4 separate regions of the Homo sapiens genome follow, and all the other regions are reported to be linked to region 3. The links are microRNA targets in miRTarBase. Many come from high-throughput screens and were not tested one by one. Region 3 holds a microRNA gene; each other region holds the end of a gene's coding sequence.
The links. The annotated mature microRNA hsa-miR-1470 reads GCCCUCCGCCCGUGCACCCCG and lies in region 3 at 1,666-1,686, shown strand. An mRNA with a match to its seed (bases 2 to 7 or 8) in the 3' UTR can be bound and repressed. Matches are read on the target gene's strand: a 7mer-m8 pairs with bases 2 to 8, a 7mer-A1 pairs with bases 2 to 7 and ends in A, and an 8mer does both.

Region 1: miRTarBase lists KIAA1958 as a target of hsa-miR-1470. The part of its 3' UTR that is shown has no 7-base or 8-base seed match.
Region 2: the mRNA of BTBD3 is a reported target of hsa-miR-1470. Seed matches in the 3' UTR shown: 7mer-A1 at 1,452-1,458.
Region 4: miRTarBase lists NEXMIF as a target of hsa-miR-1470. The part of its 3' UTR that is shown has no 7-base or 8-base seed match.

What each region holds. Positions count from the first base shown.
Region 1 is chr9:112,659,572-112,662,745 of GRCh38, forward strand. It overlaps KIAA1958, which reads left to right. Exons shown (of 4, transcript NM_133465.4): 4 at 1-3,174. The coding sequence ends at 498. Among named protein-coding and RNA genes, the nearest start is that of INIP, 57 kb to the right of the region's middle. RefSeq lists a silencer at 924-1,124.
Region 2 is chr20:11,923,501-11,926,500 of GRCh38, forward strand. BTBD3 (BTB domain containing 3) reads left to right here. Exons shown (of 4, transcript NM_014962.4): 4 at 1-3,000. The coding sequence ends at 166. Among named protein-coding and RNA genes, the nearest start is that of BTBD3-AS1, 6.4 kb to the left of the region's middle. RefSeq lists enhancers at 1,172-1,672, 1,673-2,173.
Region 3 is chr19:15,447,883-15,451,039 of GRCh38, forward strand. It overlaps MIR1470 (microRNA 1470), which reads left to right and starts at 1,666; the gene lies at 1,666-1,726. WIZ (WIZ zinc finger) reads right to left here and starts at 2,074. Exons shown (of 13, transcript NM_001371589.1): 1 at 1,916-2,074; 2 at 221-485. The coding sequence starts at 425. RefSeq lists silencers at 1,339-1,448, 1,799-1,918, 1,969-2,098.
Region 4 is chrX:74,736,470-74,739,623 of GRCh38, forward strand. NEXMIF (neurite extension and migration factor) reads right to left here. Exons shown (of 4, transcript NM_001008537.3): 4 at 1-3,029. The coding sequence ends at 2,936. Among named protein-coding and RNA genes, the nearest start is that of RLIM, 120 kb to the left of the region's middle.

The DNA of each region.
Region 1 (3,174 bases), not on the chromosome of region 3:
CCTATCACTCTCCTGTCCACTGTGGTCAAGTACAACAGCCAGTACCTGAACATGCGGACGCTGCAGGAGCATGCGGATCTGATGTATGGTGACATCGAGCTGCTCAAAGACCCCCAAAACCAGCCCTACTTTGCCCGGACGGACAGCGTCAAGCGGGAGAGTCGGAGCGGCTCCACCAGAGTGTGTCACGGGAAGATCTACCATGAGCATTCCCGGGGACACAAACAGTGCCCTTACTGCCTCCTCTACAAGTACATGTACATCCACCGGCCGCCCACCCAAATGGAGGCCAAGTCCCCCTTCTACCTGACTGCCAGGAAGGAGGCCACAGACATGGGCAGCGTGTGGTATGAGGAGCAGAGGATGGGGCTGCGCTCTCTTCGGGGAATTGTCCCAAACTTAGCCAAGAAGGTCAAGCTGGAAAACTGTGAGAACTTCACCTTTGTCTCGTTCACTCAGGTCTCCCGGAGGCTTGGCTCCCACAGCTGCTGCCAGTGAGCCCCCACTGGGGCCCGGCCACTGCCCTGTCACCTGCTCGGGCCAGCCAGGGTTGGAGCAGCTGGAGCTCCTTGGAGGCAGGGGCTGACCAGGTGTGACCTCCCGGTCTGGCGGCTCTCCCCTGGTGTGGCCTGCCCTCCCTTTGACTTGGGGTTTGCTTTTTAAAATGAAACTAGATGAGTCTAAATCATTCGGATGGTTTATCCAAATGTGCGTCAACTTCGTTAGCTTTTAGAATCTAACACAATGTATAATTGTTACATACAAGAGTGAGGAAATTCATTTTCTCTAGTGCCTTTCTAGCACAGGTTTTCTCAAAACAAACAAACAAAAAAGGAAACTGTTAAGTAGTCGTTTAAAAAAAAAATCCCAGTAGCGCAGTAGCTTTAGAACGTTAGGAAGACTGTACACTTTGTTGAATTACACTCACAATTAGAAACTAGAGAGAGGCAGACACGTTCCCTATTTCCAGGAGACAGATTGCGCTTGATGCGCCTTTTTTTTCTGTTGGTGGATAAGGTGGTTCTGGAGGGCAGGCAGCCTTGTGTCGGGGAGTATCCTCAAGCGACACTTGGTCATCTGACAAGGACTTGGGCTGCTCCCACGGCTCCCAGCAGCGGTAGGAACCCCATCTCGGCTGTCAATGGAGAGAATTTTATGATAAAAGATTCACGCACCAGAAGGGTGTCTGTGAGAACAAGGCTTCTAGTGAACTAGACAGTTTGTACCATGAGGGAATTTCTAGTAGTGAAGGAAAATGGCTTGGAAAAGCCAATCTGTGATCAAAATGTGAAAACCTCCTGAAGCAGAAGTGCCTATGTTTTATTTCTCAGCACCATGTGAGAGCTCCTTTGATTGGAACATTTTTTGAGGTTTCTGTCTGTTCTTCGTGTCATCCCATTATTCGGTCAGCATATACCACTGGATCTATAAAACAACTAAAGGTAATTTTTAGTCTTAGCCAAGAAAAGCTAACCAAACAAGCTGCAAAAAACACAGATCCCCAAACTTTCTTTATTAAAGAGATTTGGAATATTTTTGTCAATGTATGACTTTTCAGCCACAATTACATGTCATCATTTTAGGATGGCACCAATACTTGGGACACGATGATTTAGGCACCCCACCAGGTAAGCAAACTCAGCATTAAGGATGTAGTTATAAAATTAGCGCATAATGGTAGGTAATGCAGTTTGAAACCATTTCACTCAGGTAAAATGCAACCTGACCACATTATTTAAAAATCAGCAGAATTTTCTAATAACTACTCTGAGTGCAACAACAAGTGAAAAAGGAGCTCAAAGAGTGCTCATTAAGAGTAACAATAATTTCTAGGGACCTTGACTTTGCATTTGAGGAAAATCTTGTGTAACTTTATTCCATTATGCTCCTAATATGCTTTCTAATCCCAAATTAAAACTCTAATACAAATTCATTTTGTAGAAGTCTTAAAATCAGTCCTCTTTCTTTTTGAAAACATTATTTTAGTATTTATTTTAATTAATTGGTTTCTTAAAAAATCATACACTAGTCATTGACATATGTAATACTTCCTTTACCAGAGAAGACTCAACCAATGCTGCCTTAAGATTTAATGTTATTCCCTTTTTAGTCACTGTGCATTTATAAGTTTGTTTACTAGTTGACCTTTCCTGAATAGAGATTAGTTTCGGCATTTCTCCATCTGTATATAAATAACAGGTAATATTTAATCATCAGTGTATGACTTGATATCACATAACGTTCTGGTGTGGTTTCCTGTAGTGATCTTAGGGTTTTGATTTAAAAGAAATACACAAAACATTAGGTACAATTTCCTTTAGTTTGCTAAACACCCAAAGGATATTTTGTTTTGTTGGTTCTGCACTTAAACTGAAATACAACCTATGTGAACTATTGGGCAAAGCCTGCAGCCTAATTAATTAAAACCTCCATTTTTATTTGAATAGATTCAAGTAGAAATTGCCGTTAGGAATCACTGGGATCTTTTCGGATTTTGACCTTTTCAAAGGTAGCAATAACTACTCCAGAGGTTGTAATCTTTCTGTTGGTAGTGGCTTTTCATCAGCTAAATAATCATCTCTGCCTCAAATGTGTTGCCTGTCACCTAGTTGATGTTCCATAAAATCCCTGGGTTCTGAAGTGAATTATTATAATTAATAATCAGGAGGGCGAATCTTCAGTGGCATCTGATGGAATGAAAGAACTGTGTCTGAGCAGCCTAAAAGCTGTTTGTGACATGCCACCTTGGGAAACAAGAGTGAGGAAGAAAACACAGTCATCAAGTGCCAGCGTGTGCCACCCATTGTACTAGGTACTTTATTATGCATTTATGTATATGTGTGTGTGTCTGTGTATACACACAAACACATATACATAAGTGTTTACACACACACACGCACAATATGTGGTTAAGCCTGGTAAGCCTGCTAAAATGGCAAAGCGGCCTGGCGCGTGGCTCACGCCTATAATCCCAGCACTTTGGGAGGCCAAGGTGGGCAGATCACTTGAGGTCAGGAGTTCAAGATCAGGACCAACATGGTGAAACCCCATCTCTACTAAAAATACAAAAATTAGCCGGGCGTGGTGGCAGGTGCCTGTAATCCCAGCTACTTGAGAGTCTGAAGCAGGAGAATTGCTTGAACCTGGGAGGCGGAGGTTGCAGTGAGCCGAGAC
Region 2 (3,000 bases), not on the chromosome of region 3:
AGCCAGTGTGATACTGGATGGCAATGAACTCAGCTACTTTGGACAAGAAGGCATGACAGAAGTTCAGTGTGGCAAAGTGACTGTCCAGTTTCAGTGCTCCTCAGATAGCACCAATGGCACTGGGGTACAGGGAGGGCAGATCCCTGAACTTATATTCTATGCTTGAAAACTCACTTCCTGAAGCAGCTTGAGCTCCAAAGTGCACATCTGGTTCCAACTTGCCTGATGCTTAGCTCATCTGCAAATATGTGATCAGTGCCGGTAATTTGTAATGAATGAAGCGGTAGGCAGGTTCTAATTTCTTTTAACCTTTTAATTATGTACAGGCAAAAATGCAGCATTCCGCTTTTAACTATCTGCTTAAAAGAGCTAACGTTCTTATTAAGGCTTTGTGGTTTTTAGAGTTGCATCTATGAACCTGGGGAGATTATGTGCTTTCCCAAGCGTTCCACCACCCTCTCAGTTTTGTCCCTCTGAAGATAATTTTGGATCACCTTGAATTTCCTTTTGGACGTTATTTGATGAACAGAAATAAAGTGATAACAAGAGTTATTTTTAAACAGAACTCCTCTTACCCCCCAAAACAGATAAACCTCAGTGTACAATTTTGAAAGAAGTTTTGCCTTGTAATGAGTAATAATTTAGAAAGTAGACAGTGGTTGTGTTTGGCTCTCGTTTTATTCCTTTTACATTTGTTGCTTCTGGGATTTAAAAAATTACTAAATTCATAAGATAGTTAGGTATTAAACACTTCAGAATATCAATGTAAAATTGGAAAATAAGGAACTGGGGGCATTTGTTTAGGCCATGACTTCTACAAGCAGATTTCTTTTCTTTTAGTTTAGAAGACAAAAAATTTCAATACAGATACTTCTTTTAGAAGTAAATTTTTAGATTTTATTGTCAGTAGAAAAAAGTTAAACTCCTACTAATTTAAACTAAGACAGTTTAAAAAGGAAGCCTGAAAAAGACTCATACTACAAATAATTTAATTGATGGCATATAAGAATATGCAGTTTGAAAAAGCCAAACTCTTCTCTCCACTTAGCTTTTGATCCCCACTGTTTGCTTATTTGTATAAGTCATACTGTGTAGAATTTCTATTTTCTTTTTCCCCATTAAAAGAGGACCAAACAATTCTTTATACAAATGGAGTAGCAACTAGTTTTGTAGCACTACATTTAATGTAATGAGATACCTTTGTTCATTTTTTTAAATTTGAAATATACTTTACCTGATCCACTTTGATTGTATACTATATTCTTTGTTAATTTTAATTTTGTCCTGTTCCTAGACTGCTAGAATCTGGCCCCTGGCCATCTTAAAGTGCCAACATATGCCTGCAGGGTTTATAAAAAATGGCCTGGAGTGACACATTTTATTATACCTAATATTCACTGCATCAGTATCACATCTAGCTCCCTTACTTGTCCACAGATAATGTAAACAAAGGAGGGAAAAACTTATTAAATTCTCCTTCGCTGCTGGCTTGTGCTGGTTTAGTGCCTGTGTCCCTGGCAGTGTCCAGTGTGTTCACTTCCAGTTGAAGTATCCATGTGTTTCTGGGCAGCTTTTCTGCTCAGTGTGATCCTGAGATGGCTTCCCCGCCGCCACCCAGAGTGTGGTCCTTGGCCGCCTCCTGCTCCTGCTCTGCAAGCCTGAAACTGGCTTGTCTGGAGCCAGGAGTTAGTCCTGGGGTGTGTGTGTGCCTGCGCACCCATGCGCATGCAAGTGTGTTTGCCAGCTCAGGAGCTGTCTCCTCTCTACCTGGCTAGTAAGAGGTGGGACAGTAATGGTCCTCCTGCTGGCCCCAGCAAGGCCCATGAGTGACTGCCCTGACGTATTCACTGTGCCTCTGGGCCACTTCTTCCCCTGTAGATGTGGGCTTGTTGCCTTCAGCCGGCTTCCCTGAGGGAGGAGAACACTGGATTATTGGAAATGTTTTAATCACTCTTGCCATTACCTACATCTATTAGCATAGATGATGAAAAGCTGTTACTGGTGATTATAGATGAGTATTTCCAGGACAACGTTCTAAAAGTACAATTATTTCTTATTGGGGAGATTACAGGTAGTTTGGCAAAGCATTGAAGTACAAAGGTACATTTTCAATTAAAAAGCACACTTCTACAAAAGATTTGGTTTTTAAATTATGGTTACACATTTCAGTAACTCATAGCTGCTGTGCAAATTGGTAGACCTTATAAGAAGGCACTTGTTTGTAAGCCAGAGAAGAAACTTTAATTGCATCCTATCAGATTGTTGAGGTGGGTGTGATAGTCTTCAGGTGCAGTGCGTTCATTCACTAACGCTCACTGTCAGTGCCCATGTTTGCTAGCTGCCTCCATGTGACTAGTGAGCTGCTGGTGAAAGTCGTGTGAAATCCTGTACACTGTGTATAGAATAATGTAATTTTATGTTAATTGTTATTACTTTAAAACATATCTACCATCTGATTGGCTGGTACCGAGAGCTGTGGGTAAAATTTGAAAATTGTATTTAGAATAAGAAATTTTACATTTTAAACCCTATTGTCCTTTATGCATTTTCAATGAAATGGAATGAAGGCTAATATGCTTGCTTTATTTACTTTTGTAATCTTGGATTTTGTAGCTTTTAAAACTAGAAACCATTGTTCTAACAAAGCAGGCAACTTTATTCTATAAACACAACTTTATTAAGCAGAATACACTGTAGATGCTTTTCCCCAACGTATCTGGCTGGCAGTCTTTGTCGTTGTTCATTCTGGGGATAAAGGGGAACTAGGCTAGCAGTTCTAATGTGACATTCTTTAAGCATATCTTAAAATAGTATTTAAGTAAATGGTCTAATTTCTACATAATTATTGCACTGAACTTTTTTGTTTATTAAGGTGTTTAAATAAGCTCAGCTAATTCAAGACACTGTAGCCACTTGTGCATCAGTGTGCTTGAATTTAGTAGCTTACAGCATTATTTATGAAGGAAAAAATACATAAATATGAAGTACCTCATGTTGAAT
Region 3 (3,157 bases):
TACCACCCAGTGGGGAGCCTTGGTCTGGTCACTGGCTCCCAGGACACCTGTTTTCACAACTGTCAAATAAGAAACTAAACAGAGTACAAAGAAAAGGCTCTGGACCCAAGCGGAATCAGCATCCCAGCTCAGCCGCTGCTGCGCTGGGTGACTTGACTCTCTCTGAGCCTTGGGGAATGGGCTGGATGCTCCCTGGGGGCCACACGGCCCATTCTCTTACCAGAGATGCCACCTCTGCCATCCAGAATGTCTCGGGGGCCCTCCTTGGTGACAGGCAGGTAACGGGTGGACCGGAAGATGCCACCTTCCCCCTCAGCAGCTTCGGCCCCACCCTCGATGTTCTCCCTTGGCGCCGGGCCAGGCAGTCTCTCTGGGCCTTGGGGACGATCTGGTGCAGCCAGGCTGCCTGCCAGAGACCCCTCCATCGGATTTTCTCTGCTTGGATCCACTCAGCTGCTGCACCGGCTCAGCGGGGCATTGTGGGCCTGGGGATAGAGAGAAGGAAGTGCTTAGGGGATGGAGGAAAGGGAATCTGCCTCAGTTTCCCATCCCTCAAAACCTCAGTCCTCAACTTTGCAGCTCACTGCCTCAGTTTACCTCCCAGCCCAGGGGAGCTAATGGTGTTCAGACCTTTTCCACACACCTTCTATCCCAATGGCCCCTACCCTCAGCATGCCTCCGTCTCCCCATCAATAACTCCTCCCCTTTATACAGATCCTGCACTGCCTCAGTTTACCCATATTGACACATGCACACTCAGCCACCTGGTCTTCTTCCATCAATCTTACCATTTCTCCAGACGCCTCCCTTCATTCACACACAGCTGCACTTTCCCCAGTCCTGCCCTCACATCCATGCACACGCACATCCTACTGCCATGCCTTCGTTTCCTCGGCAAGAATCCCAGCCACTTGTACACTCTGATCCTATACACCGTCAGGAGTCTCCCATCATTACCCCTTTACTTTTCTCCATTGGGTTGTCCCATACCAATGATCCCTGCACTTTTCCCACACTCCAACCCTTCCCCCACACAGGACCTTAGGGTTCTCCAGCATTAACCCCTTCACCCCCCTCCACACACACAGCCTCAAGTGACCCCAGCATTAACCCTTTCGCTTCTCCCCAACATTATCCCTCATGCATACCCAGCTTGGGCTCCTCCATTCCCCCCACCCCCCAACCAAGATTGCTCTAGTCCTCGGGCGAAAGAAAACGATAGGGCTCCTGGTCCAGAAATGAGGACCCTGGGGAGCGGGGGTTGTCCTCTCTACCTATAAATACCTTCAAGGTAACGGCGGAAAGTGAAGGGCAGGAATGAGGCGCCCTCCCCAGGGAGATGGTGGGGAGGCCGGGCCCAGGCAACCGGGGCGGGGCCGGGGCGCCAGGCCTGGTTGCAGGCGCTGCCCTCGGGGGCCTGGGGATTCCCAGGGGGCTCCTCCGTGGGCTGGCAGTCTTGGTGGGGGTCCCTACCCAGGCCCGGAGGAAGCACCTGCGGTTGTCCACTGGGTGGGCACTGCCCGCGGGGAACGGGCGGGACCGCAACTTCGGAGCACTTTGGCAGCGTGGGGAGGGGGCTCCTACCCGGACGCCCCCCAGGGGTCGCAGAGGTGGGGGCTGCGCCGCGCGGGCCCACTCCTCGGGGGTCCAGGGTCCGGGGGATGAGCCCTCCGCCCGTGCACCCCGGGGCAGGAGACCCCGCGGGACGCGCCGAGGTAGGGGGGACACCTGCCCCAAGACCCCCGCCCCTCCCCCCACCTGCACGGCCCCGCCCCCGGCCAGGCCCCGCCCCTGAAGGCCCCGCCCCCGCCCCCGCCCCGGGGGGTCCCGCCTGGCCCGGCCCGGCCCGGGGCCTCCCCCGCCCCGCTACGGCTCCGCCCCACCCGCGGGCTCCCCAGGCCGGGCCGGGCCTCACCGGGGAGGCGGCGCCGCCGGCCAGGTGCCGGGGCTCGGAGCTCCCCTCCTTGGTGCGGCCGTCGCTGCCGCTACCGCCGCTGCCGCTCCCGGTGCCGGTGCCGCGGCCTCCGCAGCCGCCGCCGCCTCCACCGCTCGGGGGACATTGTCCCTTTAAATCGCTCCCCCCGCCGCCCCGCCCCCCCGGCGCGCCGCCGTGACCTCAGCGCGACAGCCCCGCCGCGCCGCCATGATGGGGAGGTCCGGGGCGCCCCCCCCACCCCACCCCCCCCCCCCTCGCCGCCCCGGGGGGGGCGGCCAGCGGGCGCGCCGCCATGTTGGGAGTGGCCAAGCGGGTCACCCTTAAAGGGCCCGCACGGCCTGAGTCCAGGGAGAGGCCCCGTTACCATGACAACACCCTTGTCGTCCCACACCCCAATGGCTCCTTATCGTCCCACTGGTACTTCCAATGGTAGGCTCGCTAAAAGCACTAAAAGAGTGGGGAGGGTGCAGAGAAGTTCCCCCATGGGTCATTGATGGGTCATTGATAGGTCATTGAAGACTCCACCCAGCCAATTTTTAGCCTTTTGTCCCCTGCCCCCCATCAGCTACCTTCCAACCACAAGCTCACTCCCTCCTTCCCAATCATCCACACTGGACTTCAGCACCTCCATGTCCCTAGAGTTGCCCTAGGTCTTCAGTCCTAAGTCACCTTCTCCACCCAGTTCCCAGGATCACAGCTTCCAGGACTACCCCATCAGACACACATCATGGCCTGTTGTCTTGTCTTATCCACCATGTATCCAGATATCTAACCACCTAGCTATCTCATCCACTTCCTCAATCTATCAATCACTCATCTACCTATCCAATGAACTAATCACCTATCCACCCACCCCTCCAACCACCTATTAATTCACCCAAACACCCACTCAACCCACCCATTCACTTCCCATCTACCCACCCATTCATCCAGCACCCAAGTAAATACTCATTTATCCATACAACCAAGCAAGTACCCAACCATCCCCACACACATCTTTCCGCCCAGCCCCCCAAACATCCATCCACCAGTTTGTCTGTTGATTTGGTCCCTCCACTAACATGTAAGTTCCATGAGGCCAGGAGTCCTGTCTAGTTCATTATTGTTTCTCCACTGCCCAGTTCTCAGGCGTCTCAGGAGACCTCAACATATGTACATATGATATATATAATCACAACATTGAAAAAAATTTTTTCTTACTATGAACCAGGCCTTTTCTAG
Region 4 (3,154 bases), not on the chromosome of region 3:
GAAGGGAGCGGTAATCAGGAATTTCAGACCAAGGATAATATATATTTCTGACTTGAGATACCAGTGATAGGGCAAAACACTATTTTTATACTCTACTAAGGCAGCTGGTTATGACAGGAAGAAAAAGAACTGTGAGAGCAGAGACAGGACCAACAAAATGCTAAATGATGAACATCTCAGAACACAATGTACTGAGAGGAATATTAAATGCAATTAAGAGAATAAACATCTTCTGCCTCGGCCTATTGCTCATTTCTCAAACTCTGTTTCTTTTTATGTTTCAGTACAAAGTGACTGGTTATGCGTCACTAATTTATATATTAAAAACATATAATACACTGCAGGCCAATTAAAAAGGTACTTTAAAATAACAATTCTCTTTGGAGAAAGGGATGAACTATGCCCTAGAATTGGCCCTTAATGGGCTCCATAGGAGCAACTGAAAGAATATCCATTCCAAAGGACTTATGATAGCAAGTTCTCACAAGGAAATTGTTTCCAACAGTTTCAGGCTGTCCTACCCCACTCACACCCCATTCTCCAAAGCTGAACTGATACCGAAAAAAAACTGGGACAACTGCTCCCATATTTACTTTTATAAAAACACATTGTATTAATGGAACATTTTCTTTATTTTTTCATTAATTGCCACCTTTTCATTACATAGAAAGCACTCCACTCCTCTAAGCCAGCAGGTGACTCTGAGGTCTGGAGTCTTGGGGATCACAATACAGGCAGAGTTGGTGATTCCAAGCCAAAATTCAGCTGCAAAACAGAAAAATCAAAAACAAAAACAAAAACAAAACAAAGACCAGTTTCTAGGGACTGGCCATAGCATTTAGTACAGCTAGCTATCAGAATAGAGAAATAGAAGAAGGTTTTCCAGTTTGGTTATTTTCCCTTTTGAATGGTAGCTATGGGGCAGGAGACATGTTTCATCTGGTGCCTTTCCACTAAGTAATTTTCCAGGGCTCACTGCAAACAGAGCATTAAAGCCTAGGAATGGGCCTGTACCAGCCTCACAGAATGCTCCTCACCCACTCATCCCCACAGACACAAGAGACTGACGCTGGGAACACACATGATCAAGAACACAGGCTTGTTCATTTTACGACCCAGCTGTAAGGAATAGAGCAGGCTGGTGAAAGGAATCATGGACCGGGAAGTGTATATACTTATATACATGACAGGCTTCCTTCCATTTCTCTCTGACTACTTTCAAATGTTGCTTCTCTGTTTGTGAATACATTTAGGTGGCATTGACTAGGTAGGTTCATATTTTGCTTAAAATTTTCCTTTTGAAACATCTTCCCTTTTTTTGTTAAATCCCCTTTTTCCCTTCCCACTTATTCTCCACCCTCCCACCCCAGCCTATATATTCACAAGTTAATAGGTTAGTAACAATATTAATAAGAATAGTAACAACGACAACAACTAACAATATTAATAATATTAATCCCCTATATCTGTATAGCACTTTATGATCTACAAAGCGCTCTCACATCCATTATCTCATCTGTGCCATAATGCATCAGTCATCAGATGCACAGGCCTTCAATTGTGCAAAGAAAAGAGATCAAATGTTAGAAGTCAAGTGGTGAATAAAAGGGAAGAAAAAGTAGTAGTGAGGAATGTTGGGGCTGTGAAATTTTTTTTAAAAAGTAGGGGGAGTACTGAATAAAAAATGTGATTTAAAAATTTGTACTTAAAATTGAGATTTAAGTTTAGTGTGTGGCATCAAATATTGGTTATCCTCAGACTAAGGGTATATGGCCCAAATCAGTTGTTGCCACAAATTGTTCATCTTATCTGATAGTAAATGTACTTTACTCATAAGAAGAAAAATTTGGTTGAACTGGGATGCCTTAACATTTTCTTTAAATGACATTGGCATTGCAAGATTAAACACTGAAAGAACACTAAAGCCATGATATGAGTGCACTTTTGACAAAACTGGAATAAAACATTTAGGAAACTATTTAAATAAAAGCATTCTATATACTTCATTTATCATTAGTGTTGATTTTATAGCTATTTTTATAATTTATCCCAGACTATTATAAAATATATAAAACTGAGATATAAAGTATCAGCAATATAACTTTGCACTTTAAATAATTTTCAGCTACAGATTTTGCTTTTAGAAAACAAACTTTGAAAGCAGCTGTTTTGTTTCCTTGTAAAACGTTCTGTAAATGCATATACTTGGGTCCCTGATGGACTTAGCTGTTGTGGCCTTCAGACTTTTCCAAAATTTTAACCCTTACACAATGGAACAAGAAAATCTTTATTTTGCCTTGTTTAGCTGTTCATGTTTCCACACAGGACAGTAGAGTCTAAAACTTTAAAAGAACGTGTGTGTGTGTATATATATATATACATATATATACACACACACACACACACACAAACATATACATATATATGTTTGGGTGTGTATATATCCATTTAAAAATAATTAATGAGCTTTAAACTGTGGGTGAATCTGTGAGATGAGGTAAGAAAATTTGGCACATTTCAAACAGTATCCTTTAATTTTGGTAAATTGTGTAACACAACATATTTTTCCACCATGATCTACAGGTGCTATCCACATAAGTGGGGGTGGTTAATAGCAAGAATCACTGGAATGTTTCTAGTAAATTAACAGGGACAACTTCCCCAAATACAACCAAATGTTGATATAGAAGTAAAAATATATACAGTACAGTCACTTGTTTGTAGTTTGGCACAATGTTTTCAATTTTTTCCTTGTGGGTAAATAGTGCATAAACTACTTGTGCAACTGTATGACTTTTTAAGTCTTTTACATAGAACATGAGATTAAAGTTTGCTCCAAAGACGTATTCCCACAATTTAAAATTCTTTTCTTTAAGCACTTACATGTCAACATACATACCACAAGGCATATTTTGAAAGAAATAAAACACAAACATCAAATGTCTTTCTGGAAAATGCGAGTCTCTTCTTCAAACACAGGTAAAACCCAAAAGGTTGTTTCTGCTTTTAGGAGATTGTAGTCGGAATCCCTGCAGAAAAATCAAACAATTTATGCCATCTGAGTTAGTTTTAGTGTATGTCCCACAAAGGGATCATACAAGCTAAATTTGTTAACATCATACTAGATGCCGTATGATGTAGAAAAAGATACAAA